5 separate regions of the Homo sapiens genome follow, and all the other regions are linked to region 1. The links come from fine-mapping of genetic effects on gene expression. A gene starts in region 1. Each other region holds a variant in brackets. All regions are shown on one strand. Distances are between the middles of the regions. Region 1 holds the start of GNPTAB (N-acetylglucosamine-1-phosphate transferase subunits alpha and beta). Region 2 has its middle 12 kb from the start of ARL1. Region 3 overlaps GNPTAB (N-acetylglucosamine-1-phosphate transferase subunits alpha and beta). Region 4 overlaps GNPTAB (N-acetylglucosamine-1-phosphate transferase subunits alpha and beta). Region 5 overlaps SYCP3 (synaptonemal complex protein 3).

What was found.
Region 2: its variant is fine-mapped to the expression of GNPTAB in lung (TOPMed, PIP above 0.99).
Region 3: its variant is fine-mapped to the expression of GNPTAB in spinal cord (GTEx, PIP 0.92).
Region 4: its variant is fine-mapped to the expression of GNPTAB in blood mononuclear cells (TOPMed, PIP 0.93).
Region 5: its variant is fine-mapped to the expression of GNPTAB in whole blood (INTERVAL, PIP 0.96).

The regions. Positions count from the first base shown.
Region 1 is chr12:101,828,762-101,833,983 of GRCh38, reverse strand. GNPTAB (N-acetylglucosamine-1-phosphate transferase subunits alpha and beta) reads left to right here and starts at 3,025. Exons shown (of 21, transcript NM_024312.5): 1 at 3,025-3,425. The coding sequence starts at 3,309. RefSeq lists silencers at 2,843-3,242, 3,599-3,893.
Region 2 is chr12:101,416,703-101,422,870 of GRCh38, reverse strand. No RefSeq gene overlaps it. Among named protein-coding and RNA genes, the nearest start is that of ARL1, 12 kb to the right of the region's middle. The variant C/T (reference allele first, on the strand shown) is at 2,539.
Region 3 is chr12:101,801,347-101,807,514 of GRCh38, reverse strand. All of the region lies in intron 1 of GNPTAB (N-acetylglucosamine-1-phosphate transferase subunits alpha and beta), which reads left to right. Among named protein-coding and RNA genes, the nearest start is that of GNPTAB, 27 kb to the left of the region's middle. The variant A/C (reference allele first, on the strand shown) is at 3,564.
Region 4 is chr12:101,768,118-101,773,897 of GRCh38, reverse strand. It overlaps GNPTAB (N-acetylglucosamine-1-phosphate transferase subunits alpha and beta), which reads left to right. Exons shown (of 21, transcript NM_024312.5): 8 at 2,741-2,902; 9 at 3,313-3,492; 10 at 3,707-3,877; 11 at 5,738-5,780. It also overlaps the pseudogene ST13P22. Among named protein-coding and RNA genes, the nearest start is that of SYCP3, 32 kb to the right of the region's middle. The variant C/T (reference allele first, on the strand shown) is at 2,334.
Region 5 is chr12:101,731,097-101,737,264 of GRCh38, reverse strand. It overlaps SYCP3 (synaptonemal complex protein 3), which reads left to right. Exons shown (of 9, transcript NM_001177949.2): 3 at 1-33; 4 at 194-228; 5 at 2,221-2,338; 6 at 3,591-3,690; 7 at 5,599-5,697. Among named protein-coding and RNA genes, the nearest start is that of SYCP3, 5.3 kb to the left of the region's middle. The variant A/C (reference allele first, on the strand shown) is at 3,329.

The DNA of each region.
Region 1 (5,222 bases):
AATCCTTTTTGATCTTTTGGCTTTTCTGGCTCTTTTAGGTTGCCAGATAAAATATTTCCAGATAAATGGGATGCTACTGCATATTTTTTCCACTGTTCAGATGTGGAGAGTTTAAAATCATTTCCAGGCCAGGTGAGGTGGCTCCCAGCATGTTGGGAGGCCAAAGTGGGAGGATTGCTTGAGCCCAGAAGTTCAACACCAGCCTGGGCAACATAGTGAGACCCTGTCTCTACAAAAAATTTAAAAAAATAATTTCCACAACTTATGCATTTACATACTACTAATGTTCTTGAAGTGCATATTTAATCAGTTAATTCTCCTGCTGAAAACCTCATTGCTTTCAGAACAAGGCTAAATGTTAATTTTCTTAAATTTTTCCAACACTAAAAATGTCGCAGGCACTTGAGCATTTTCATGTGTTATTTTACATAACCCTCCTAACTGTATAAGGTAGCTACTACAGGTATATCATATTGCACCCACATTTATTTTATTTAAGTTCAACCATACTGCCTGAGGAGGGGGAAAAGGGAGTGAACAAGAGCAAGTTCTCTAGAAGAAAGGACTTAGACAATGCTCCTGACCTCCCTTGAGGCTGTCTAGTTGGAGCCTAAAGATAAAGGAAAAATTTAAGGGTAATTCATACTACAACAAAGCATACTTTTTAAGAAGGACAGGTTCTAGGCAAGGCTAGGACTAAAGTGAGGACAGTGAAGCACTTGTCTTGGGTGGAAAATCCGAGGGAACTCCAAAAAACTCACTAATCAAGAGGAATAATATTTTAATGCTATATATATATATTTTTTTTTTTTTTTTTATTAGATGGAGTTTCACTCTTGTTGCCCAGGCTGGAGTGCAATGGCACGATCTCGGCTGACCGCAACCTCTGCCTCCCGGGTTCAAGTGATTCTCCTGCCTCAGCTTCCTGAGTAGCTGGGATTACAGGCATGTGCCACCATGCCCTGCTAATTTTGTATTTTTAGTAGAGATGGGGTTTCTCCATGTTGGTCAGGCTGGTCTCAGACTCCTGACCTCAGGTGATCCACTCGCCTCAGCCTCCCAAAGTGCTGGGATTATAGGCGTGAGCCACCGTGCCCAGCCTAATGCAATATTTTTAAAAAATCAAAATTAATGGTTGGGCGCAGTGGCTCATGCTTGTAATCCTAGCACTTTGGGAGGTCAAGGCAGGTGAATCACTTGAGGTCAGGAGTTCAAGACCAGCCTGACCAAGATGCTGAAACCCCATCTCTACTAAAAATGCAAAAATTAGCCGGGGGTGGTGGCATGTGCCTGTAATCCCAGCTACTCAGGAGGCTGAGTCAGGAGAATTGCTTGAAGCCAGGAGGCGGATGTTGCAGTGAGCTGAGATCACGCCACTGCAACCCAGCCTGGGCAACAGAGCAAGACTCTGTCTCAAAAAAAAAAAAAAAACCCAAAAAACAAAAAAAACAAAAAACATTACTGAAGAATATCCATGAAAAGCAAAACACCCAAACTTTATGTTTTATTTTACGTTTTAAATTTTTTTTTTATTTTAATAGGAACAGGGTCTGTTACCCAGGCTGGTCTCAAACTTCTGGGCTCCCAGACTCCTGGGCTCAAGCTATCCTCCCACATTGACCTCCCAAAGTATTGGGATTACATGCATGAGCCACCACACCCAGCCCCGATATCAAAACTATAAACAAAGACAGAATCTCACTCCAAACTTGCATGACTCATTTCACAGTACCTTCCCCTAATCTTGGCCCTGTTCTACAGCCTAAGTACCTGGTTCAAATCTCAATTCTGTCATTTACTATTTGTGTGATGTTAGATAGTTACTTTTTTTCATCACAGTTTCTTGATCTGTAGAATGGGGATAATAATGGTATCTCCATTATAAGATTATTGTGAGGATTAGATGAGCTGGGCACATGGCAGATGCTACATAAATGTTGGCCATTATCCTGAGAGTCCTGTTGAGTGGCAGATGTTTTTATATCTGTTACCATGCTTTTTTACCCCTTCTGATTAAGTCCTCAGATCTGTTATCATGCTTGAAAAGACCTCAGAACTATATGTGTCTTGTACAACTGCAATAATCTTTTGCCATGTACATATAGCATATATCAATCATCTTTTTTAAAAGAAGGATTAAAAGAAGTGACTGCAAAGTGTAAAAAATCTTGCCTTGGATTGGAGTGAAGCTAACCCCTTTTGCAAGTCTGTTAATTCCACCTGACCATCAAACTGAGGGTGCGAATTTGAGTATTTCCTGAAGCTGGTTCCCAAGATATTTTTAAAAATGCTTTGAATGATGGCAACATTAGATAAGTGTATTGTTTCCCAGGGTGACTAGGAAAAAAATCTTATTGACTAGGGTGCATTGGGATTAAGAAAAAGATCTCCCTTTCGTAAATCAGAGGCACCAAGGAAAGGATCTCGTGGGAAAAACCTGCTGTCAAAGTCGGATTACCTGGCCACCCCTGAGCTGGTTCCCCTCCAGTTCATCGCATGATTTCTATCATAACAACTCTTGTATTTAGTGGTTTACATGTTTATCTCCCCCACTAGACTCTCTGAGAACAGTAGCCAGGTCTAGTTCATTTTTGAATACCTGACACCAAGCACTATGCCACCTAACAGGCACAAATTACATATTTAACGACTAAATGAATGAACGAAATTCGGTTTTGGCAGATTTAACCCAAAGGTTTCCTCTTTCAAACAATATAGTTGGGGGTTGGAGGAAAGGAGCCACATACAGCATCTCCTTTTAGCACTCTGCAGAGAATGCTAAGTGCAGAGAAGGTTTTATGCACAAAAATATTCATGGCATTATAGTACCGTCTATGGCACAGTCTCGACGCAGGGGGCAGTTTTCTCTTGGTCGCCTGCCCAACCGGGTAAGTGGATCCCAGCTCAGCTCCGCCCCTCCCAGCCCAGCCCTCAGGGCCCGCTGCGCAAGCGCAGGTGGGGAGGGCGCGCACCTTCCCTATGCCCCTCCGTCCTCCAGGTGGCGCTGGAGACCCCGCCGCCGCCGCAGCCGCCTCTCGCCCGGCCAGACCCGGGCGGCGCCGGCCGCCTCGCCGGCCGCAGGTCCGCCTCCGCCGCGCCGAGGGCGTGGGCTCCCGGCTCCCGGAAGCGGCGGCCGCGGCGCGGAGCCGAGCGGGCGTCCGTCGCCGGAGCTGCAATGAGCGGCGCCCGGAGGCTGTGACCTGCGCGCGGCGGCCCGACCGGGGCCCCTGAATGGCGGCTCGCTGAGGCGGCGGCGGCGGCGGCGGCGGCTCAGGCTCCTCGGGGCGTGGCGTGGCGGTGAAGGGGTGATGCTGTTCAAGCTCCTGCAGAGACAGACCTATACCTGCCTGTCCCACAGGTATGGGCTCTACGTGTGCTTCTTGGGCGTCGTTGTCACCATCGTCTCCGCCTTCCAGTTCGGAGAGGTGAGTAGCGGCGCCGCAGCCTGGACCGGGCGCCTCGACCCTGCACTGCCCTCGCCGTGCCCCGCGATGCCCCGATACAGTATGTATTTTTTCATTATTAGAGACGGGGTTTTGCCATGTTGCCCAGGCTGGTCTCGAACTCCTGAGCTCAGGCGATCGCCCTGTCTCGGCGTCCCCGAGTGCTGGGATTACAGGCGTGAGCCACCGCTCCCGGCCAAATACAGTATTCTTTATCATAAACGTGTGCAGAGACTATGAGCAAGTCAGAACTGGAAAAAGGCATGTATGTGATTTTAGATATTGCTCCCTCGCCCACCGTTTTTTAAAAATAGAGACGGAGGTCTCCCTATGTTGCCCAGGTTGGTCTGGAAGTCCTGGGCTCAAGTGATCCTCCCTTCTTGGCTTTCTAAAGTGCTGGGGTTACAGGCATGAGCTACCGCACCTGGCCCAAGAAAGCCACTTTTAGCAACGGGGAGGAAAGCTGTATTTTTAAGTGGTTTGAAATCTGTTCCTTAGTTTTAGTTTTTTTCTTTTTCTTTTTTTTTTTTTTTTTTGGTAGGAGGTTACAAAAGGTTTTAAAATTTAACAGAGTAGTTTTTAGAAATGCCACAGTATACATTTGCTTGAAGTCTTTACCCATGCTGGATTGTAAGCTCCGTAAGAGAAGGTGCTGTCTGTAAATACTGTAACCCTGGCCCAAGCACAGTGCCAGGTACTGCCAGAGAATGCAGTGCAAGTGTTTGTTTAATGGCTAAATTATATGGCATGAATTCTGAGCATGTACTTTTTTAGTAGTTCTTGGTTCTAGAGGCTGGGAAAAAATGTCTTACCATAAGGGTGAGAAAGCTCCAGATTTGTAAGTGTGAAATATGTACTTAATATTATAGTACTTGCTCGTCTTTGTTTCATGTGTTGCAACTTAATGTATCTGTGTGTAGTTAGGTGCCTTATTGCTTTTGTGTGATTTTTTTGGCCTTGATTAATTTTGAGTTAACTGTTTATTAAGTCCCATGCAGTGTGAAGATGACTTAAAGGCATCAGGTGTTAGAATTCTTCATTTTATTTTATTTTTTTGAGACAGAGTCTTGCTCTGTTGCCCAGGCTGGAATGCAGTGGCTCCATCTCGGCTCATTGCAACCTCTACCTCTCAGGTTCAAGAAATTCTCCTACCTCAGCCTCCTGAGTAGCTGGGACTACAGGCGCGTACCACCATGCACAGCTAATTTTTGTATTTTTAGTAGAGATGGAGTTTCACTATGTTGGCCAGGCTGGTCTCAAACTTCTGACCTCAAGTGATCTGCCTGCCTTGGCCTCCCAAAGTGTTGGGATTACAGGTGTAAGCCACCGCACCTGGCCCGAATTTTTCATTTTATATCCTTTTCTTTTTGCTTTCATTCCATGCTTGGCTGTTTACCAAAAGAGAGACATTTTGTTGCAGTCCTGAAATGGCCACAGATCATAAGGTTTGGAACAGACAAGAGAAATGAGAGGCAGACAGTGCCAACAGGTGTCATGAGAGGTGAAGGCAGCTGGCCTGTGGTTAACTTGTAAGGCATAATGGAAAAGAGGAGCTGCATGATTAGGCAGATTTGGCCTTGATTGCTGACTCCAGTTGATAATGATCATAATAATAGCTAATACTTATATTGGTCTTAACAGGTATCAGGCACTCTCTTAATTGCTTTACATATGTTAACTGATTTAATCCTCACAACATCACCCCTGTGGGATAGGTGCTATTATTATAACCATTTTATAGGTGATGAAATGGATGCATTTGCATTAGAATCCAGCTAA
Region 2 (6,168 bases), 410 kb after region 1:
AGCGAGAGTCCATCTCAAAAAAAAAAAAAAAAATGCATGTACACACAGAGATAAAATTCTGAAAATAACTTTAATAGGTGTGCAGGCTCCCAGAAGTCTACTGTGAATTAACAGAATGTCAGGTTAAGAACCATTTGTCTCAACAAAATAAGTAAGTTTAACCAAAGAACTGTAATACCTGTTACTGAAAACTCCAAAACATTGAAAAAAATTTATATATGTATTTGTATCTCACTCTGTCGTCCAGGCTGGAGTGTGATGGCACAATCTCAGCTCACTGCAACCTCTGCCTCCTGGGTTCAAGTAATTCTCTTGCCTCAGCCTCCCGAGTAGCTGAGACTACAGACACACACCACCACGCCGGCTAATTTTAGTATTTTTAGTAGAGACGGGGTTTCGCCATGTTGGCCAGGCTGAACTTGAAATCCTGGCCTCAGGTGATCCACCCACCTCGGCCTCCCAAAGTGTTGGGATTACAGGCATGAGCCACCACTCCTGGCCTATATAATATTGTTTTTTATGGTTTTTTTTTTTTTTTTTTTTCAGACAAGGTCTCTCTCTGTTTCCCATGCTGGAGTGCAGTGGTGTGATCACAGCTCACTGCAACCTTGACTTTCTGAACTCAATCGATCCTCTCACCTCAGCCTTCTGAGTAGCTAGGATTACAGGTGTGTGCCACCATGCCCAGCTAATTTTTGTAATTTTTTTTTTTTTTTTTTTGAGAGGGAGTCTCACTCTGTCGCCCAGGCTGGAGTGCCATGGCATGATCTCGGCTCACTACAACCACCTTCTCCCAAGTTCAAGCGATTATCCCACCTCAGCCTCTCAAGTATCTGGGACTACAGGCGCATGCAACCACGCCCGGCTAATTTTTGTATTTTTAGTAGAGATGGGGTTTCACTATGTTGGCCAGGCTGGTCTCGAACTCCTGACTTCGTGATCCGCCTGCCTTGGCCTCCCAAAATGCTGGGATTATAGGCGTGAGCCACCGCGCCCAGCCTAATTTTTTATTTTTTTTAAATAGTTATGAGGTTTTACCATGTTGCCCAGGCTGGTCTCAAACTCCTGGGTTTGGCCTACAAAACCCAGGCATTGGCCTCCCAAAATGCTGGGATTACCGGCACAAACTGCTGTGCCTGGCCCATAAATGTTGTTAAGATGACAGCACTTCCTGTTATGGTTTGAACGTAGGTATCCCTCCAAAATTCATATGTTGGAATTCAACACGGTACCCTCCTCTTGACCTTATCTATGGGGGATATGTTTCAAGACTCCCAGTGGATGCCTGAAACTGCAGATAGTATCAAACTGTATATGACAATGCTCTGGAGCGCCCAGGACTAGATCTCCTCACTGCTGATTACTAAGAGTACTGCATCAGAGTACAAAGCATGGGAGTCAGAAAATGAGTAATATGGAAGGGAGGGTTGGAAAAAGCAAAGGCTTCTTTTTGGCATATCAGAATGGCCAGGATCACTACTCTTGCATTTTGGGGTGATTTTCTTTTCTTTTTTTTTTCTTTTGTGACGGAGTTTCGCTCTTATCGTACAGGCTGGAGTACAATGGTGCAATCTTAGCTCACTACAACCACTGCCTCCTGGGTTCAGGTGATTCTCCTGCCTCTGCCTCCCTAGTAGCTGGGATTACAGGCATGCGCCACCATACGCGGCTTATTTATTTATTTATTTATTTATTTTTGTGAGATAGAGTGTTGCTCTGTTGCTCAGGCTGGAATGCGGGGCACGATCTCGGCTCACTGGAACCTCCGCCTCCGGGGTTCAAGTGATTCTCCTGACTCAGCCTCCTGAGTAAACTGAGATTACAGGCACACACCACCATGCCCAGCTAATTTTTGTATTTTTAGTAGAGTCGGGGTTTCATCAGGTTGACCAGGCTGGTCTTGAACTCCTGACCTCATGATCTGCCACCTCAGCCTCCCAAAGTGCTGGGATTACAGGCATGAGCCACCGCGTCCCGCTAATTTTGTATTTTTAGTAGAGACGGGGTTTCACCACATTGGTCAGGCTGTTCTCAAACTCCTGACCTCAGGTGATCCACCTGAAGTGTTGGGATTACAGGCATGAGCCACCGCGCCCAGCCTGGGGTGATTATTAAGCAAAACAAGAGTTGCTTGAACACAAGCGCTGTAATACTGTGACAGTTGATTTGATAACTGAGATGGCTACTAAGTGACTAGCAGGTGGGTAGCATATACCGCAGGGATATGCTGAACAAAGGGATAAAATTAACATCCAGGACAGCACAGAGCAGGATGGTGTGAGATTTTAACATGCTACGCAGAATAGCAAGAAATTTAAAACTTATGAATTATTTCTGGAATTTTCAATTTAATATTTTTGGACCGAGGTGGACCATGGGTAAGTGAAACCTCGAAAAGTTCACCACAGATAAGGGGAAACTACTCTATTTATGTGACAGTGTTAAGAGGTAGGACTTCTATTGAAGGGATTAATTCACAAGGGCTCTGACCTCATGTATGGATTAGTACTATTTTTAAAAAAGTTGAAGGGGGCCGAG[C/T]GTGGTGGCTCATGCCTGTAATCCCAGCACTTTGGGAGGCCGAGGCAGGTGGATCACGAGGTCAGGAGGTCGAGACCATCCTGGCCAACATGGTGAAACCCCGTCCCTACTAAAAATACAAAAATTAGCCAGGTGTGGTGGCACGTGCTGTAGTCCCAGCTACTTGGGAGGCTGAGGCAGGAGAATCGCTTGAACCTGGGAGGCGGAGGTTGCAGTGAGCCGAGATCTTGCCATTGCACTCCAGCCTGCTGACAGAGTGAGACTCCATCTCAAAAAAAAAGGTAGAAAGGAGTGCTCCATGCCTTTTGTCCTTCAACCATATGAGAAAGGACCAAGAGGCGCCATCTTGGAAGCAGATAGCAATCCTTACCAAGCACCAAATCTGCTAGTGTGTTGATCTTGGACTTCCCAGCTCTAGAACAACGATAAATAAATTTCTATTGTTTATAAATTACTCAGTCTAAGGTAGTTTGTTATAGCAGCAGGAAAAAGCTAAGACATTTCCCAAATTAATCTACAGATTCAATGTAATCCCTATAAAAATTCCAACTGCCTTTTTTTTTTTTTGCAGAAATGAATAAACTGATTCTAAAATTCACATGGAAATGGAAGGGACCCAGAATAGCCAAGACAAAGTAGGAAATGAACAAAGTTGGAGGACTCACACTTCCTAATTTTAAAACCTACTACAAAGCTACTATAATCAACAGCTACTTTGGAAGGCTAAGGTGGGAGGATCACTCAAGGCCAGGAGTTTAAGACCAGTCTGGGCGACATAGTGAGGCTCCATCTCTGCAAAAAATTAAAAAATTAGCCAGGGATAGTGTTGCACACTCATAGTCCTTGCTATTCAGGAGACTGAGGCAGGGGGATTGCTTGAGTCCAGGAGTTTGAGGCTATAGTGAGCTATGATTGCACCATCATACTCCAATCTGGGCAACAGAGTAATGCTCTGTCTCAAAATTAAAAAAAAAAAAATCAACACGGTGTGTGTGGTACTGGCACAAAGATAAACATATACATCAATGGACTAGAATTGATAATTCAGAGGTTGGGCACAGTAGCTCATGCCTGTAATCCCAGCACTTTGGGAGGCCAAGGTGGGTGGATCACTTGAGGCCAGGAGTTTGAGATCAGCCTGGCCAACATGGTGAAAACCCGTTTCTACTAAAAATACAAAAATTAGCCAGGCATGGTTGTGTGCACCTGTAATGCCACCTACTTGGGAGGCTGAGGCATGAGAATCACTTGAACCCAGGAGGTGAAAGTTGCAGTGAGCCAAGATTGTGTCCCTGTACTCCAGCCTGGGCAACAGAGGGAGACTCTGTCTCAGAAAAAAAAAAAAAAAGAAAATTCAGAAATAAACTTGTAATGTAGTAATGTGAAATGAATACTGACTTTTTTTTTGTAAAATTAGTTAAAATTATTTAAAAAAAGAAAAAAGATGGGCCAAGTGTGGTGGCTCATCTCTGCAATGCCAGCAGCACTTTGGGAGGCCAAGGCAGGCAGATCACTTGAGCTCAGAAGTTTAAGACCAGCCTTGGCAACATGGTGAAACCCTGTCTCTACTAAAAATTCAAAAATTATCTGGGTGTGGTGGTGCACACCTGCAGTTCCAGCTACTCAGAAGCCTAGGTGGGAGGATCACTTGAGCCCGGGTGGCAGAGGTTGTAGTGAGCTGAGATTATGCCACTGCACTTCAGCCTAAGTAACAGAGCAAGACCCCATCTCAAAAGAAAAAAAAAAAAAGGGAAAAAAGAAAAAAAGAGGCTGGGTGCAGTGGCTCACACCTGTAATCCCAGCACTTTGGGAGTCCAAGGTGGGCAGATCACCTGAGGTCAGGAGCTCAAGACCAGCTTGGCCAACATGGTGAAACCCTGTCTCTACTAAACATACAAAAAATCAGCCAGGCGTGGTGGCAGGTGCCTGTAATCTCAGCTACTTGGGAGGAGGAGGCAGGAGAATCACTTGAACCTGGGAGGTGGAGGTTGTGGTGAGTCGAGTTTGCACCACTGCATTCCAGCTTGGGCAACAGAGTGAGACTCCATCTCAAAAAAAAAAAAAAAATTAGCCTGGCGTGGTGGCACACACATGTAGTCCCAGCTACTTGGGAGGCTGAGGCAGGAGAATCGATTGAGCCCAGGAGGTGGAAGTTGCAGTGAGTGGAGACTGCGCCACTACACTTCAGCCTGGGCGACAGAGAGAGACTCTGTCTCAAAAAAAAAAGAAAAGAAAAAAGAAATTTATATTACCTATGATCAATTGATTTTTGACAAGGTGTGAAGACCATTTAATGGAGAAAGTCTACTTTCTTCAACAAAAGGTGCCAGGACAACTGGATATTCACATGGCAGGGTTTGTTTTGTTTTGTTTTGTTTTTTTGAGACAGTCTTTCTCTGTCACACAGGCAGGAGTGCAGTGGTGCAATCTTGGCTTACTGAAACCTCCACCTCCCAAGTTCAAGTGATTCTCCTGCTTCAGCCTCCCGAGTAGATGGGATTACAAGCATGCAACACCACACCTGGCTAATTTTTGTATTTTTAGTAGAGACAGGTTTCACCATGTTGGCCAGGCTGGTTTCAAACTCCTGGCCTCAAGCGATCTGCCTGCCTTGCCCTCCCAAAGTACTGGGATTACAGGCATGAGCCACCCAAGCCTGGCCAAGCAAATGAATTTGGATCCATATTTCATACGATTTGCAAAAATCAACCCAAAATAGAAAAAGATCAAAATATAAGAGCTAAAACAATAAAACTCCTAGAAGAAAATACAACTGTAAATCTTTGTGAGCTTGGGTTAGGCAATGGTTTCTCAGATATGATACCAAAAGCACAAGCTACAAAAGAAAAAAGTAGATTTTTTTTTTTTTGAGAGTCTTGCTCTGTTGCCCAGGCTGGAGTGCAGTGGCACAATCTTGGCTCGCTGCAACCTCCACCTCCTGGGCTCAAGGGATTCTCCTGCCTCAGCTTCCTGGGTAACTGGGATTACAGGTGTGTACCACCACACCTGGCTAATTTTTGTATTTTTAGTAGAGACGGGGTTTCGCAATGTTGGCCAGGCTGGTCTTGAACTCCTGACCTCAGGTGGTTCACCTATCTCGGCCTTTCAAAGTGCTAGGATTGCAGGCATGGGCCACCACACCCAGCTGAAAAAAAAAATAGATAACTTGTATGTCTTAGTCCATTTTGTGTTGTTATAAAAGAATATCGTAGACTGAGTAATTTATAAAGAAGAAAAAATTACTTCTCACAATTCTGGAGGCTGGAAAGTCCAACATCAAGATGCCTGCATCCTGTGAGGGCCTTCTTGCTCTGTCATCCCATGGCAGAAGGTGGAAGGGCAAGAGAGCATTCTTGAGAGAAAAGGCAGAACTCGCTTTCATAACAAACTTACTCTAGTGATAACAAACCCACTCCTTTGATAACAACATGAATTCATTCATGAGGATAAAGCCCTCATGATCTAATCACCTCATAAATGTCCCGCTTCTCAGTAGTGTGGCATTGGGGATCATGTTTCCAACACATGAACTTTGGAGGACACATTCAAACCAGAGCACTGGACTTCAACAAAATTAAAAACTTTTGGCCAGGCGCGGTGGCTCGAGCCTGTAATCCCAGCATTTTGGGA
Region 3 (6,168 bases), 27 kb after region 1:
CTTCTATTCAAACCAAGATAGTTTTATTTCATCCTTCTCAATCTGTTTACCTTTTATTTCCTTTTTTTGTCTTACTGCATCAGCTAGGACTTCAGGTACAATTTTGAATAAGAATGGTGATGGGAGGAGGAGTCCACACTTGTCTTGTTCCTGGTTTTAGGAGGAAAGCATGTAGTTTCTCATCACTAAGTATGATATTAGGTGAAACTGTTTTTGTGGATGCTCTATCAAACTGAGGAAGTTCTCCTGTATTCCTAGTTTGCTGAACATTTTTATCATAAATTAATGTTGGATTGTCAAATGCTTTTTCTGCATCTATTGGTATCGTCATACAATTTTTCTTCTTTAGCTTGTTGATGTGAAGGATTTTATGAATTGATTTTTGGTTGTTAAACCAGGCTTGTATACCTGGGATGAATCCCAGTTGGTTGTGGTAAATAATTCTTTTTATATATTGTTGGATTTGATTTGATAATATTTTACTGAGGGTTTTCGCATCTGTGTTCATGAGAGATAGTGGTTTATAAGTTTCCTTTCTTGTAATGTCTTTGCCTTGTTTTGGTATTAGGGTAGTTTTGGCCTCATAGAATGAATTAGGAAATGTTCTCTCTGCTTCCATTTTCTGAAAGAGATTGTAGAGAAGTGGTATCATTTTTTTTTTCCTTAAGTGTTTGGTAAAATTCACCAGTGAAGCCATCTGGGTCTGGGGCTTTCTATTTTGGAAGGTTATTAATTATTGATTCAAATTTTTTTATAGATATAGCCCTATTCAGATGACCTCTCTCGTTTTTTGAGTTTTTGGATCATGTGTTTCAAGGAGTTGGTCCATTTCATCCAAATTATAAAGTCTGTGGAGACAGAGTTGTTCATAATGCTCCTTAATTTTTTAGGGGGGAAGGTATTGTAGTGATTTACTTTTCTTTTAAATTATTGTGGTTAAACATATATAACATAAAATTTGCCATTTTAGCTATTTTTAATTATATAACTCAGTGGCATTAGTTACATATACAAAGTTGTGCAATCATCACCACTGACTATTTCCCAAACTTTTTCATCGCCCCAAACAGGAACTTTGTAACCATTAAATTCCTCAGTCATCTCTTCCTTTAGCTCCTGGTTGCCTCTAATCTACTTTCTGTTTCTATGGATTTGCCTGTTCTAGATATTTTATATAATGGAATCATACAATATTTGTGTTTTTGTTTCTTGTTGTTATTTTGGCAGTTTTGGCTTGTTTGTCTGTGTTTACATGGGGAAAGAAAAATTGTAGCAGCCTGTTCCACCATTTTGCTGATGTCTAGCTCCAGACTAATAGTTTTGATTGTTGCTTTTTTTATATAATGTTTTATCAAACACTTTATCCCTTGACTACTTTGTAATGCTCCACAAAGGAAGAAACTTTGTTTTGGTCATTGCTATGTCCTCAGAATCTAGAATGATGCCACATAATATTTATTGACTGAGAAAATTAAGTTACTATGTTTTAAACGATTGTTTGAAAATGTGATTTTTTAATAGCTTTATCATATTTATATGAATGTACCATAATTACTCAATTTCCTGTTTAATTTTTAAATCATGTTTAATGATCTAAACATTAGATATTTCGTTTTTATCGGTAATAATGGTGATTATCGTACAGAAGCCTTTGGGTGGATCTATGATAATTTCCTCGGCATATGTTTCTTGTAGTGGAATTAACCAGATCAAAAGGCATGAACATTTATTTGTTTGTTTCTTTGGTACACACTGCCAATTGCTCCTCAAGAAAGGAGCAATTTTTTTAAATGGCCTAGCAGCTATTTTTTAAAAAAATAACATTCTTGACCTGGCTCAGGCCTGAATCCCAGCATTTTGGGAGGCAGAAGCAGGCAGATCGCATGAGCCCAGGAGTTTGAGACTAACCTGGGCAATGTGGTGAAACCCCATCTTGACAAAAAAATCCAAAAATTAGCCAGACGTAGTGATGTGCACCTGTAGTCGCAGCTACGCAGGAGGCTGAGATGGGAGGATTGCCTGAGCCCTAGGCTCAGTACATCAAGGCTGCAGTGAACCTTGATGACGCCACTGCACTCCAGCCTGGGTGACAAAGCAAGACCCTGTCTCAAAACAAAAACAAAAACATTCTTTTCACCTTTTATGACTTTTTAGCATTTCAAATTCATTTTTTAAAAGTCCTCTTCTTGGTGTATTTTAAAAATATTTTTAGGTAACAGTGTGAAATAAAATTCACTTGTTAGTGGAGGTAAATACATTAAGTTTCACAAACAGATATTGTGCAAAACTTCATTTCAGTAAACTTTTTTATGACAATTTTGCAAAAATAAAATTTGAAAATCTTAATTTGACTAGTTTGGCTTCTGGTTTACTAATTATACTAAAAGTATATACCAAGTTAAACCATTTTTTGTTCATATGTTGGTAATTTTTTTTTCACATGATATATTTTAATTATTTGCATCATATTTGTCTCCCCAGTAGTCTGTGAGCCCCTTGTGGGTTGTAATAAGTTCAGTGTTGTATCATAATTTTAATACCTTATACATCCTATAGTACTTTGTAGTTGTCAGAATATTTTATCAGCTCACTTGAATTTTCTAACAACCCCTTAGGGGATAAGATAGTATTATTTAAATTTTACAGTTGAAATTTAGGGTTAAGTTGACTTGTCTAAAATCACAAAACTGGAGCTTAGGTCCAGTTGTTCTGACTTGCCACCTTGTGTATTTTTGTGACAGTCTTTAAGGTTTGAATAGCTGCAGCACTAAACAAACTTAGTGCCGTGACCAAAATCTGTATTTCTATTTGGCCCATTATGGTGACCACTAACTGCATGTGGCTACTGAGTGCTTGAAATGTGGCTAGGTGATTAAGGTAGTGAATTTCTTATATTACTTAGTTTACGTTTTAAATAATGACTTGTGGCCACATACCATATTGGACAGTGCAGGTCTACCCTCATAGGTAGAATAACTATTTGCCAGGACATTATAACAAGAACTCAAACATTGGCTGCAGAGTAGGGCACTGGATTCAAAGTTCTTCCTGTAGAATTCGGTGATTCTGAAAACTCTGAGCAATAAAACAAACAACATAGATATATTCAGAAAGTCGGTTTGAATACTTTTTGAAAGTATTTTTGGTAGTTCGTTGGTTCTTTTTTTTTTTCTCTTTCTCTCTTTTCCTTTTAGCCAAGTGTGATTGCTAAGGGTTCTTTTTGTTTTCTTTTAGATATGACTTTTATATAGTAGAGTGCATTGTCAAAGCACAAAGCAATACTTTTTTTGTTTTGTTTTTTTGAGACAGTCTCACTCTGTCACCCAGGCTGTAGTGCAGTGATGCTGATCTTGGTTCACCGCAACCTCCGGCTCCTGGGCTCAAGCAATTCTCCTGCCAGTGAGTGCTACCAGGCTTGGCTAACTTTAAAAATTTTTTTTTTTTAAATAGAGACAAGGTCTTACTATATTGCCCAGACTGGTCTTGAACTTCCAGGCTCAAGCGATCCTCCCACCTCGGCCTCCCAAAGTACTGGGATTACAGGCACGAGCCACCATGCCTAG[A/C]CAGTATTCTTAATTCTGACTTCTAATACAATTTTCTTCCCTACTCCCCAACTGGCAAACAAATCTTTCTTTTTTCTCTACTCCTTTATTTCCATAAAAATCTCAGCTCTCTCTCCGTGGAAAAATATGTCATGATTATTCCTTTTGTCTAACAGTGTTTATTATATTTTAATCTGTACTCATTTAAAAGCTACACAGTAGTCCTACATCATTTCATGCAAATAAATGTTTAATCCTTAACAGGAATGTCAGCTCCTTGAGGACAGAGCCCTGATTTCCATTTTGTCTTCCTTAAAAAATCTGTTATGTTGTGTGTCTATTGCGGTAGAGAATCCAAAGAGGGTAGCCATGGTCTAGAAAAATGTCTGAGTTTAATTAGTGTTTGACTAAATAGTGGTCATCCATCTTCGGTTTGAATCATTTCCTTTAATTTATGTGAAGAGAAGAAATCATTCCTGTGTTAATAACCATTGAACTCCTAATTTTTTAAAGTTGTGCTTTATTGCATTAAGCCACTTTGCATCAGGAAAATGGGTGTCTTTAATCGAATGTGATTAGAAATGCTGCTGGCAATCAGCAGATTTTACTTCCTGGTTAATATCATAGGAGGAGGAGGTTTAGTAGAAAAGATAAAGCTTAAAATATCTTTAATATATCTTAGTCTTTCTTTTAGTGCCTCCATGCAAAACAAATTTTGTTTTCAGAAACTAAGAAGACTTTTTGTAATCTAGGAACATGGTACATTTATCTTTTCTTTTTCCCTTGTTGGAGGGAAGACAAGGTTAGAGGGACCTTGATTCTGAGGCAGCTTCTAAGGCCTCTTGGCATGTTAAAGTGCCAGTCTTTGGGGTATCACTTTCTGAGTCTACTTTCTGGACTTTTGAGACTTTTTTTTTTAAACTCAGCCTAATTCCCTGGAGATTCATTAAAGTTGATGAGAGATTCCATCTTTTTCAGCACTCTTTTCGAGTCCTGGCTTCTTACAGAAGTGGCATAGCCCAGGAGGTCTCCTCATGGTGTTATGTCCGGGAGTCTCCATCTGCCGTAACTGGAGATTAAGGATTTTAGTGGTTTTCTTTTTAGTATTGTCCTCAAGGGTGCTGGCAAGCTGATTTGCCAAATTAACTAGATCAGAGGTAGGCACAGTTTCCCATTCTGTTCGGGCCCTTTTGACCAGCTGGGAGAGTTCTTGAGAAAGGCTGTTCACTAACATGGAATAAAAGGCTACTTGAGTAGATTCAACATTTTCTTTAAATACAGCCTGGAGCCTACTGTAATAGTTGTACATTAGGTTCTTTCTTGGGCACAGGCCTGGAGGTTTTTCCAGTCTAAGGCTTTAGGAAGAGCCTCGAGAACAGACTTGTGGAGTGTTTTTTTTTCCTTCTATGCCTTTGACTCTATCCATAGTCTTTAGGGGTGTTTTTGTCTAAATCCCCCTCAGGATCATGGCAGTGAGCCTTGACCATCCAGTGTTGTGCCTGACCTTCACTGACAAGAATGTGAACCACCTACTGTGGGTCAGAAAAACCTGGCTGATAACCCTAAGTTACTATGTCCAATTAATCAGCAAATTGGTGAGGGTCCCCAGTAACCTCTGGAAGTTCCCTGGCAATGGCACGAAGTTCAGCCTTGCTCCAAAGAACAAAAGAAATTTGGGGTCTAGAGGAATTGTCAATAAGTTTAATTTTCATTTCTTTCTTTCTTCTTTCCTTTTTCTTTTTTTCTTTTCTTTTCTTTTTTTTTTTTTTTTTTAAGAGACAGGGTCTTGCTCTGTCATCCAGGCTTGAGTGTACTGGTACAATCATGGCTCACTTCAGCCTCCAACTCTTGGGCTAAAGTGATCCTCCCACCTTACCCTCTCAAGTAGCTGGGACTACAGGCATGCACCATGCCCGGCGAATTGATTTGTTTTTGTTTGTTTGGTTGTTCTGAGACAGGATCTCAGTTTGTTGCCCAGGCTGGCCATGAACTCCTGACTTCAAGCCATCCTCCAGCCTTGGCCTCCTGAGTAGCTGGACTCCAGGTGTGCGCCACCATGCCTGGCTAATTAAAAAAAATTTTTTCTTTTTTTTGAAGAGACAAGGTCTTACTATGTTGCCCCAGCTGGTCTCGAATGCCCGACTTCAATCGATCCTCCCTTCTTGGCCTTGCAAAGTGCTGGAATTACAGACATGAGCCACCACACTCAGGCTAGTTTAACCAAATTGTTTTATTTTTATTTTTTTCCTTCATACAGCCTCCTTTAACTTTAAAGGGACAGATTTTGGCGGGCCAGAGAAAGAGAGGAGAATAGAGAAGAAAGAAGGAAGGGGAAGTCTCATCTGTTCCAGAGAGGAAGGAGTTTGGGTCCTTAAGGCCTTGCTCTTTTTTAAATTTTTTTCCAGTTTTTTTTTTTTTTTTTTTTTTTTTTTTGAGACAGGGTCTCTTTCTGTCACCCAGGCTAGAGTGCAGTGGCACAGTAAATGCTCACTGCAACTTCCACCTCCTAGGCTCAAGCGATTCTGCCGCTTCAGCCTCCCAGGTAGCTGAGACTACAGGCACATCCCACCACACCCGGCTAATTTTTTGGAGTTGTAGAGACAGGGTTTTGCCGTGTTGCCTATGC
Region 4 (5,780 bases), 60 kb after region 1:
ATATATGGAGGCAGTTGCCCACAATTGCCCAAGCCACAAACTCCAGCCTTAGGCACAAACTACAGCTGCTCTTCCCACACTACCTTCTCTCTTCTGACAAAAGTAATGATGATGTCCAGGATTGGGGTGCCACCTAGTGGCTGTCAGAGGGTACTTCCCCACCCTTTTTACAGTGGCAGAAAATCTTTCTCATACATATAAATATTACCTTAACCTCATTAATCTTCATCTCTTTCCGAATTATTGTATAGTTACTATAGACAAACCTCTTCTTGCTCTTTTATGCATATATAATTAGAAACCAACCCTAGGCACTAAAAAGAATAGTTTTAGTGATATACCTTCTTATCAAACAAAGAGCCAACACAAGTTATGAAATTAAACTAGACACACCCCTTCTTCGAGGTTACGCCAAGCCAGTGCCTGGGCCTGAAACTGGCCTGCAGCCCCTCAGCTTCGCCCACTGCCTTCCGACCCTGGACCTTCGCAAAGTGAACGAGCTTCGGGACTTCGTGAAAATGTATAAGCAGGATCCGAGCATTCTGCATACCAAGGAAATGTGCTTTCTGAGGGAGCAGGTGGAGAGCATGGGGGGTGAAGTACCATGTGCTACTCAGAAAGCTATTATAAATCAGAAGAAAATATCAAGGAATTAAAAACAGGTAGTAAGAAGGTGGAGGAAAACATAAGCACAGACGAACTATCAAGTGAGGAAAGTGATCTAGAAATTGATAACGAAGCTGTGATTGAACCAGACACTGATTCCCCTCAAGAAATGGGAGATGGAGGTCAGGCCTGGTGGCTTACGCCTGTAATCCCAGCACTTTGGGAGGCCGAGGCGGGCAGATTGTATGTCAGGAGACCAGCCTGGCCAATGTGATGAAATCCTGCCTCTACTAAAAATACAAAAAATATTAGCTGGGCATGGTGGTGCTTGCCTGTAATCCCAGCTACTCGGGAGTCTGAGGCAGGAGAATCACTTGAACCCGGGAGATGGAGGTTGCAGTGAGCCGAGATCACATCACTGCACTCCAGCCTGCACGACAGAGTCAGACTCCGTCTCAAAAAATAGAAATAAAAATAAGTAAATAAATTGTTCTAGAATAGTGACTTTTTCTCTCCAGGGAGCCCTCAGAAATGCTTTGGGGGTGCTGTGAGAGGGAGGAAAGGGACAGGAAAGGCCAGAGGGTAGACAGGGACCCAGGCAGACTACTAATCCCCCTGTGTGGCCTGCCTCCCAGCACCCGGCACATATGCTGAGGCAAGTTGGTGACTCAGTGAGAACCAACTTAGTGAGTACTAAATATGTGCCAGGCACTCACTAAGTAAAAGAGGTGAAAGTGGTGAGTCAGGAAGACAGTTACATGCATCTGCAGGTGCTCACACATGCACCTGCACCTAATCTGTGAGAAGAGTTAATGGCCTACATCATAAGGGGAAAAGATATAAATGAAATTTCTAACTCTCACCTCTGGTGTTCTGGACTACATACGCTCAGGAAACTGCTTAGAAAATGAGCTAAGAATAGTCATGCAGCAAATAGAAGAGCTCAGAATAAGCTCATAATAAAATTTGTGTTTGCTTTGTTTTATAGATTGAGAAAGAAGACCGTAAGCTCTTTTAGAAGCACTAGTTCAGCAGAAGGATTTTACTGTCCTACATTTGTGGTTTTCAGGCCTCTCCCCTTTTCCTGAGTGATGAAAGCCTCTTCATAGGAAGTTGTGTGATACAGAGTCAGAACAGAAAACAGATAAAGAGTGGTGTGGACTTTCGTAGGGGTGGCAAAGCCTGTTTGTGGAACTTGATGTTTGTGATGTTCACGCTTAGATTTATGATTGCCCCAAAAGCTTTGCCCCAAAAGGTAGTTTTCCCATGGAAGCACTTCAGGCAGTCCTGCCGAAGGTGCTCCTCCCAGGCACGTGGCACAAAAGCTGTTCAGACACCCCACTAGCAGATGTACTTGTCACCAATTCCAGCAAGGTTAATTACATTGCAGATTTTTTGCCCAATATAAGCAGATTGGTAATATTCTAGAAGAAAAGTCACAGAACTGTTGGCCAGCAGGTGTACTTGCAAAGAAGTCAAAAATCATTTGAGCCAACATTGAAAAATTGGGGAGATTTCATACAACAGTTGGGGATTCTTGCCTCTCAGGAGATCTGGCAGCACTTGGTGCCATTGAGTGGTTGCAGCTCTCAGATGGCTCTGAGGTGTCCAGTTTGCCACTGCCTTTACCATTCCTTCTTGTTTTTAGACGCCTATTTTTTTAACATTCATTTGGGAAATGCATCTGGTCTGTGTAGGTCTTTTTGTTGTGTTTTGATATTGTCTTA[C/T]CATTTCAAGATTAAAGATCAGGCCAGTTGCAGTGGCTCACGCCTGTAATCCCAGCACTTTGGGAGGCCAAGGCAGGTGGATCACCTGAGGTCAGGAGTTGGAGACCAGCGTGGCCAACATGGTGAAACCCTGTCTCTACTAAAAGTACAAAAGTTTGCCGGGCGTGATGATGCAGTCCTGTAGTCCCAGCTACTCAGGAGGCTGAGGCAGGAGAATCGCTTGAACCCGGGAGGCGGAGGTTGAGGTGAGCAGAGATCGTGCCACTGCGCTCCAGCCTGGCGACAGAGCGAGACTGTGTCTCAAAAAAAAAAAAAAAAGGAAAGATTAAAGAGCAGAGTGGGAATTTAAAGGTGCTTCATCCTTGAGATTCAGTCTTTTCATGTGTAATCCTCTTGTTATTTGATAGTTGCAGTTGTATTCAGAGGCCAGTGTAGCGCTTCTAAAACTGAATAACCCCAAGGATTTTCAAGAATTGAATAAGCAAACTAAGAAGAACATGACCATTGATGGAAAAGAACTGACCATAAGTCCTGCATATTTATTATGGGATCTGAGCGCCATCAGCCAGGTAAGGGATGCACAGAAGCTTTTACAGCCCAAATCAAAGGTTAAGATGTTAAAAATGTGTAAGTTACTATATTAGAAGAGGGAAGGGGACTTACAGAGAGGTGAGTTGATTGGAATTTTTCTAATTTTTCAGTCACTGCCATTGGTTTGGTATTAACTGAAGTCACCTAGAATCAGATCCAAGAACCTTCTTCATAAAGTGTGTTATAGAAATGCTGTCTCTTTGAATTTTGGGTTTAAAAATATATATACTGAATCTTTTGCATTTTTTGTAATGTTTAAAATTAGGACTCCATCTTTAAAAGTCTGCCAGAGCACCTTGAGAGCAGACGGGCAGAAGGAAAGGACAAAGAGGAGGAGGTATGACTTAAGGGGTATTTCACATCTTCATATGCCAAGTGTTTTTCTCAGTCTAAGCAGGATGAAGACATCTCTGCCAGTCGTTTTGAAGATAACGAAGAACTGAGGTACTCATTGCGATCTATCGAGAGGCATGCACCATGGGTTCGGAATATTTTCATTGTCACCAACGGGCAGATTCCATCCTGGCTGAACCTTGACAATCCTCGAGTGACAATAGTAACACACCAGGTACAGGACTTTCTAAAAATTACAAGACTGTGATTTCTAATTCTGCTCTTTTAGTGTGGTACAGGGATTTCCATAATTTCATTCCCTTTACCCTTCTACCTCCATTTCTTCCTTTCTCTAGCTCTTCATTGCCTTCCCTTCCTTCCTTTCAAAAACTAAACCAAACCCAAACAGCTCTCATTCACTCTCTTTTTTTGTTTGTTGTTGTTAAAAGGATGTTTTTCGAAATTTGAGCCACTTGCCTACCTTTAGTTCACCTGCTATTGAAAGTCACATTCATCGCATCGAAGGGCTGTCCCAGAAGTTTATTTACCTAAATGATGATGTCATGTTTGGGAAGGATGTCTGGCCAGATGATTTTTACAGTCACTCCAAAGGCCAGAAGGTGAGTGCCTAAGAGGAGGGGGGTTGTCTAGCGTGGAAGTCACTTAGCAAATCAGAAAATGAGTGCACATACTACTGTAGTCAAATATCAGGCCAGACATGGTGGCTCACACCTGTAATCCCAGTACTTTGGGAGGCGGAGGTGGGTGGATCACTTGACCACCTAGGGGTTTGAGACCAGCTTGGGAAGCATAGTGAGACCCCTGTCTTTACAAAAAGTAAAATAATTATCTGGGCCCGGTGGAATACTCATGTAGTCCCAGCTGCTTGGGTGTTGGGGGGCCGTGGGGGGAGTAGGGGGTCACTGGCCAAGATGGGAAGATTGCTTTAGCCTGAATGTTGAGGCTGCAGTGAGCTGTGATTGTGCCACTGCACCCCAGCTTGGGTGACAGAGTGAGAACCGGATCTTGAAAAATAAAAAAATATATATAGATATATGAGATCAAATAATCATTTTTGAGTGCTAAGCTCAGAAATCAGCAATTAAGAAGTAAGAACACTACAGTTAGAAATTTGCTTTCCTGCATTCTTAGACACCCAGGACCCACACTTTTTCCCAACCATCTCAATTTTCTACTACGATAGCAGAAAAAGCAAAATCACTGTGAAACAGACAATCATGGTTAGAATATCAGCAAAATGGCCAAAATAGAAAGTTAACTCAAGTTAGTGCTTAAAGCTATAGATGTAATTTCATTTAAGGTAGCCTGTTGCACTCTAACTTTGTGAGAGGTGGGATGGAGAAGTGGTTAAGAGTACAGACTTAGGGGCCAACTCTTCAGGATGACCTTGGGCAGTGGCTCTACCTCTGTGTTTTCTGGCATAGTGAGGAAAGTACAAATACCCTTGTAGCGTTGTTAGAAGGGTTCAGTGATAAGTTAGAGACTTATCACCGTAAACTTAGAAGTTATAAAACTCTGCAACTGTAAGTGCTAATAACACAAAACTACTTTGTCTGTAATTGTTTATGCTACCCAACCAGGCCCATTCTCCTGTTCCCCTATTGAGTTGTCTCCTCTGTATCAGACTGTAGGGCTCAAAGTTGAGCTTGTGGCTTAACAAGGGGACAAACAAGATCAATGACTGTGTGGTGCTTTTCCTGCTGACAGGTGTGCCTTGGTGCTGAGGAGTGTGAGCAAAGGAGGCTTAAATCAGATAGGATAGGGAAGAAAGCCCATCTGAATTGACATGTACTGAGAAGAACAAGTAAGAATTAGTTTAGGTTAAAAAAGACATTCCAATTAGAATATGCAAAGGCACAGAGATTTTTAAAGAGGAGTGTATTTTTTTTCAATGATTTTAAATTTGAAAAACCATGTACCCCATCACTAATTCTGAGAGCAGGTGAATGCACAGCTCAGAATGCTATGCCAGTTAATTTATCACAGGGCCTTAAGCTTGAAGAGAGAGGATATTGTCTCTCAGCCTTGAGACAAGATTATGCACAAATACACTAATGAGCTACTGATAGTTACAGAAAAGCAGTGACTGTGCATACTTCCCACCAGCTTTGACATGCTTTGGTACTTGCAGTCAAGTCTGGCATGGTGCTACTTTATTTCATAGTAGATTATCAAAGCATGTTATGAGAGACTAATCCATGAGTTGAATCCTTGTCTGCTTTCCTTGAGTAATGGAAAAAAAGTAAATACGCTCAGTAAGAACGGTCAACGCAGCAGGATCTAAACAATGACTGTAGGTACAGGCAAACTTAAAGCACTTGTGAGTGTGAACGCTGAGCCCTTTGAAAATTTTAATCTTTCTAGAGACTTAATTTCTTTTTATAAAGGGAATCTTAACTCAAGAATAAAATGTATCAGAAGCCAGAAGTCATTTTATTTTCTCTTTGGTTTTATCGTAGGTTTATTTGACATGGCCTGTGCCAAACTGTGCCGAGGGCTGCC
Region 5 (6,168 bases), 97 kb after region 1:
AAGGTCTTCTGCAGGAGTAGTTGAAGATATGGGGTAACGTGTTCAAAATAATTTTTGTTTCTTAGATAAAGCACTTCAAGAAAAGTTGCTAACAAATAATATATGTAAAATACTTGGCATCTGGTATTTCTTCCAAAACAAGCATGGTATGTTGTGGATCTTCTAAAGTGTTTAAAATGTAATTTCTTTCCAGGGGTGAAGTGCAGAATATGCTGGAAGGAGTTGGAGGTAGGTTTTAGGAGATACTTGTATTTAAAGAAAATTGTTTTAAGCCATATAATTTGTATAATAACAAATGTTAATAATGGACTATAAGACTGTTATTTAATGCCTTGTTCTCACATAGAAGATTCTGCATAAGTATTTGTGATTTAGCATCACAGATTTTCATAGTTAATCTTTTCCATGATGTTAAGAGTGAATGGTATTTTATACATATGTGAATTTAATGGACTATGGAATTTTAGAAGAAAAATGCACAGGAAAAGTCTTTACCCTTCTTTGTATTCACAGACTAAGTGATACACACACACACACACACACACACACACACACATATACATACATACATATATTTGTATATAAGTTTTTCATTTTTTCAGTTTAGTTATTTTCTGACTTCCTATGCTATTTTCTTTAGGGAGGACAGTGTAAATTAAGCCTCTAAAATAACTCTTTTTACATTAATAAACTATGTAGTTGATACTAAAGACAATTTTGCTAGATAGAGTTTTATAATTAGGTTCAAAAATTCTCAAGTTTTAAATAATATATTAAGTATCAATAATATGAGCTTTGTTAGAGATTAGTTATCTTAAAAAAGAGTTAATATTTAGCTCCTCTAAATGGATTGTTCATACAGTCAACTCTTTTTTGAAACCTTTGCTCTGTCCGGTGGTGAAACAGTGCTTGTTTTATAAATTTATTATAGATAATACTGAAAGTATAAAATATTTATGTAATAGTGCAGCTACAGCATGATTACTGAAAGATACCTATTTATGGTAGATCCATAAGATAAAGGCTTATGTTTAGCAAAGCATTATTTGAAGTAGTAAACATTTTATGAAATGCAGTTCTTATGGGTAAAAATGCCCAATAAAGAGCTCCACAAAAGCATTTAAAACTGATCTTATTCACCTATTTCTCATTGAAAAATAAAGTGATCTTAATTTATCTAGAAATTTACTTAAACTAAGATTTTTTTCTGTCCTTGGTCTTTGTCTCTTAGTAAAAAATGTATTTAAAAGTATCATTGATGGCCAGGCACAGGGGCTCACACCTGTAATTCCAGCACTTTGGAAGGCCAAGGCAGGAGGATTGCTTGAGGCCAGGAGTTCAAGACCAGCTTGGTCAACATAGTGAGACCCCCGTGTCTTTAAAAAAAAAAAAATATATATATATATATATATAAAATTGATTATATTAAAAATAGTTTTCTTCTTTAACTATTTTTATCCTTTTTGGATTCTTTCTAATAGAGTACTTTTACATATTTTCTATAATGAGTTCTAACAATAATTCATTGAAATGTGTCCTTTTAATTGGGGTGTATTTTATAAATTTAGATAAATTTAGCCTTTTTAAAAATTTTTTTTTATTTTTGAGACGGAGTCTCACTCTGTCCCCAGGCTGGAGTGCAGTGGTGCAATCTCAGCTCACTGCAACCTCTGCCTCCCGGGTTCAAGCGATTCTCCTGCCTCAGTCTGCCAAGTAGTTGTGACTACAGGTGTGCGCCACCACGCCCAGCTAATTTTTGTATTTTTAGTAGAGACAGGCTTTCACCACGTTGGTCAGGATGGTCTCGATCTTTTGACCTTGTGATCTGCCTGCCTCAGACTCCCAAAGTGCTGGGATTACAGGTGTGAGCCACCGCGTCTGGCCTACATTTAGCCTTTATTAACAGTGTTTTCTCATGGGGAAATTTAAAGTCTGTCCTTGACACATTGTTTTGTTTATTAGCTCTTTTTTATTGTTCCTAAGTTAAAAAATTATCTCCAGTTAGGAAAATCAGAATTTGGGTGCTAGTAGCTGAGAGTTTTCTCAGAAAAAAAAAGTAAGCAAACAATTCTGCATTTTGAAATTATGCCTATTTCTAAATTTAAGTTTAAATGTCTTTCCAATATTGTTGAACCAACCTTACCCATATTTACTTGAATATGTGGGAACAAAATACTTTTTTCAACATTAAATTTTAATGAATTTTTATTTTCAATCTAGTTGACATTAACAAGGCTCTTCTTGCCAAGAGAAAGAGACTAGAAATGTATACCAAGGCTTCTCTCAAAACTAGTAACCAGAAAATTGAACATGTTTGGAAAACACAACAAGATCAAAGGTAAGGTGGTTGCTTTTTTTTTAGAGCCACATTTCTTAGTATTTACTGGTATAAATTACTTATGAAAAATACTATTCTAGGATCGGCACGGTGGCTCATGCCAGTAATCCCAGCACTTTGGGAGGCCAAGGCAGGCAGATCACTTGAGGTCAGGAGTTAGAGACCAGCCTGGCCAACATGGTGAAACTCCATCTCTACTAAAAATACAAAAATTAACCAGGCGTGCTCGCTTGAACCTAGGAGGCAGAGGTTACAGTGAGCCAAGGTCGTGACACTGCACTCTAGCCTGGGCAACAGAGTGAGACTCTGTCAAAAAAAACAAGAAAAGAAAAATACTATTCTAGTTACTGGGGTTTCTAGTGAAAATGTATTTGGCTTGATTTTTCTCTAAGTATGATAGTCCTGTAGCCCTATAACCTCACTCCTTCATAGAATTGACATTATTTCCTAAAAAATCAATAAAGATCACTTTTTTCCTTTTAGGTAACAAGTGAGGTTATAAAAGTAATTTCGTTTTTTGTTGTTGTTTTATGAGATGGGGGTCTCATTATGTTGCCCAGGCTGGTCTTGAACTCCTAGGCTCAAGCGATCCTCTCACCTCAGCCTCCCAAGTGCTGGGATTATAGGCATGAACCACCATGCCCAGCCTAAAAGTAATTTATGTTCATTCTAGAAATACACTAGTTGAATAAAAGGTAAATGTCATAAAAACCGTTAGTCTTATGATGGTGAATTATGTTCAACAATGTAGAAGAACACCAATCTTGTATCGTATATAATTTGTATGTTTTAGCTGACTTAACTCTTCTTTTGTATAAAATCTTTTGTTAAGCCAAAATAGGGAAAAAAATTAAGCGAACTATTTCTATTTAGAAATCTTATAGGATAAATACAATCACCTTATTTAATGTATTTGTTATATCAGAATCTATATTCAATAGGAAAAAAATGAAAAATAAACTGCTTAGAGATCAGATGAATTTCTTTTTG[A/C]AAATTTATATATACAATAAAACTTCCTTAGTTTTCAAGAGCTAAAGCTTGTGACAGGGCTTTTCTTCTATTAGTTTGTTAGAAAAAAAATACTTCTGGAATCAGTGTAAATCATAATTTTACTTTTTGGTTTCCCATCAGAAGACTTAAGCTGCAGGTATTTCCTTTTCTTATATAGTATAACTGTGTCAACTCAGTTTTGTTTTAAATTCTTTTTATATTGGTATGAAATATGACAATAATTCATCATTATGTTTTACAGGCAGAAGCTTAACCAAGAATATTCTCAGCAGTTTCTGACTTTGTTTCAGCAGTGGGATTTAGATATGCAGAAAGCTGAGGAACAAGAAGAAAAAATACTTGTTGGTATCATGATTAGGTTTATAATCAACCAAGTCTCAAGTAGGAATGGACAACCTAGCCTTTTATTGTGACCAGTGGAACTGAGCCAGGTTTCATTAACCATTGCTGGCCATGTGTTTTAAACCTACTGAACTGTAAACCACAGACGTATAGGCACATACCATACTCATAAAAGGCATTTATATTGTTTGGGGTTCCTGCATTTCCAAGTGACAGAAATTTGTCAAAGTACAAAAGAAGGATCATTGGTTTATGTAAAAGAAGTCGGGGCAGTTTAGCTTCAGGCATAGCCAGATGGGAACAGGGAGGGGGTTGCTCATGTAGTGTCATCTGGGTTCTGTCATCAGTACTTAGTAAGGTGTCTTGATGTAGTAAGCAAGATAGTTTTTACAGTCCTAGGCTTATTACAAGTTTAGTAACCCCAGTGGACTGAGAAAATCTTTCTCAATAGCTCTGGCAAAAAATTCCTCTGGGAAAATATGACTGATGGGAGTTTGGATCATTTGCCCATTCTTGAACCAATCATTGTATAGTTAGCCCTCTGTATATAAGGGTTCCGCATCTGTGTATTCAACCAATCGTGGATGAAAAATATTTGGAAAAGGCTGGGCGTGGTGGTGGTTCATGCCTGTAATCCCAGCACTTTGGGAGGCCGAGGCGGGTGGATCACCTGAGGTTGGGAGTTTGAGACCAGCCTGACCAATATGGTGAAAACCCATCTCTACTAGAAATACAAAAATTAGCCGGGCTGTGATGGCGTGTGCCTATAATCCAAGTTACTCAGGAGGCTGAGGCGGGAGAATCACTTGAACCTGGGAGGCGGAGGCTGCAGTGAGCCGAGATTGTGCCACTGCACTCCAGCCTGGGTGACAGAGGGAGACCCTTTCTTGAAAAAAAAAAAAAAAGAAAAAAGAAAAAATGCAAATTGGAAAAATAATCCAGTGTTACAACTATACAGCATTTACATTGTGTTAGGTATTATAAGAGATCTAGAAATGATTTAAAGTATGTGGAAGGATGTGCATTGGTTATATGCAAATATGATGCCATTTTGTAACAGGAACTCGAGCATCTGCACATTTTGGTCTCCTGAGGGGTTGGGTGTCCTGGAACTGGTCCCCCCAGGATACCTAAGGATGTCTGTAGTCAGAACATTGTTGACTTTTAATGGCCAGACTTGTGTTACCTGCAAGTGAGGATATTGGGGGTAGGGATGACAGTGTAAAATAGATAGGATGGATTTGTGGCACTGATAGATTATTGAGCTGTAGTACTAAAAAGAGTAAGTTAGAATGGTAAAGAAGTAGTGGTTAAATACTAGGATAGACAGAGAAACAGTATGTATAATGGTTAGAGCCTGGATGCCAGCAACAATACTGTTTTGGATCAAATTCTTGTTTGAGCAATTGTAGCTGTGAAACCATGGACAGATTATGCCTCAGTTTACTCATCTATGAAAGGGGAATGCTGAGTATCTATCTCTTAGAAAGTTTACCATTACTAATACTGTGTAGTGGTTAGAATTATTAGTAATGACAAAATCTAGGGTGGGAGTATGTAAGTCAATGGCTAAAGTAGGGTAGAGGCCAAAATCATTGAGAAACAGGTCACGAAACGGAAAACCATTATTATTGGAAGGATCATCTGTGTGGACATTGAAATCACCAAGAATTAAGACATGACTTGATTATTGTTAAAATTTCCCATTCAGCAACTGGTAGAATTAATATATTGTTACATATTAGTGGTGAACATAAATTATCTAAATGTGGTCATAATAGTTGTTAAAATTTTAAAAGCATTGATTTTTAACACTTTCTTTTAAGTTTAATGTAGAATTATTTTTTCTAAATTTAAAATTTTACCCAAATTGTTATTACACAGTTTTTTTTCTTTTATATTTGTAGAATATGTTTCGACAGCAACAAAAGATTCTTCAACAATCTAGAATTGTTCAGAGCCAGAGATTGAAAACAATTAAACAGTTATATGAGCAGTTCATAAAGGTTTGTTGTATGTGGTAACACAATACATCGTTATAAAACATAATATATTTATGGAAGTAGAAGATAATTCTTTCTAAGTTTATGGGAAAAAACATTTTAGACTTTAACTACTTTTCCATTTTGAATTCATTGTTTCTGATTTAAGTGATAAATATATTTTTACTTGAGGATTCAAATGGTTTTGTTGGGATTATTCAAGACAGGAAATGGTAAATTGGGAATTTTACTTAGAAATATACTTATCATGCATAAAATCCATACTTTAATAACACTTCAGTCATAGTTCTCTGTTTAAGTGAAAATAGACTCTATAATAATCATTTTTAGGTTGTATTTTACTTGTTTTTTTATCCCCAGTGTTTGTTAAATAGAAAGTACCCAAATTATTGAATTCTCTTGTTTTCAAATGTATTATAGAAGTATTTTATGGCACATTTGCTTTTAGAATTATTACAGTGACCAAAAATGAAT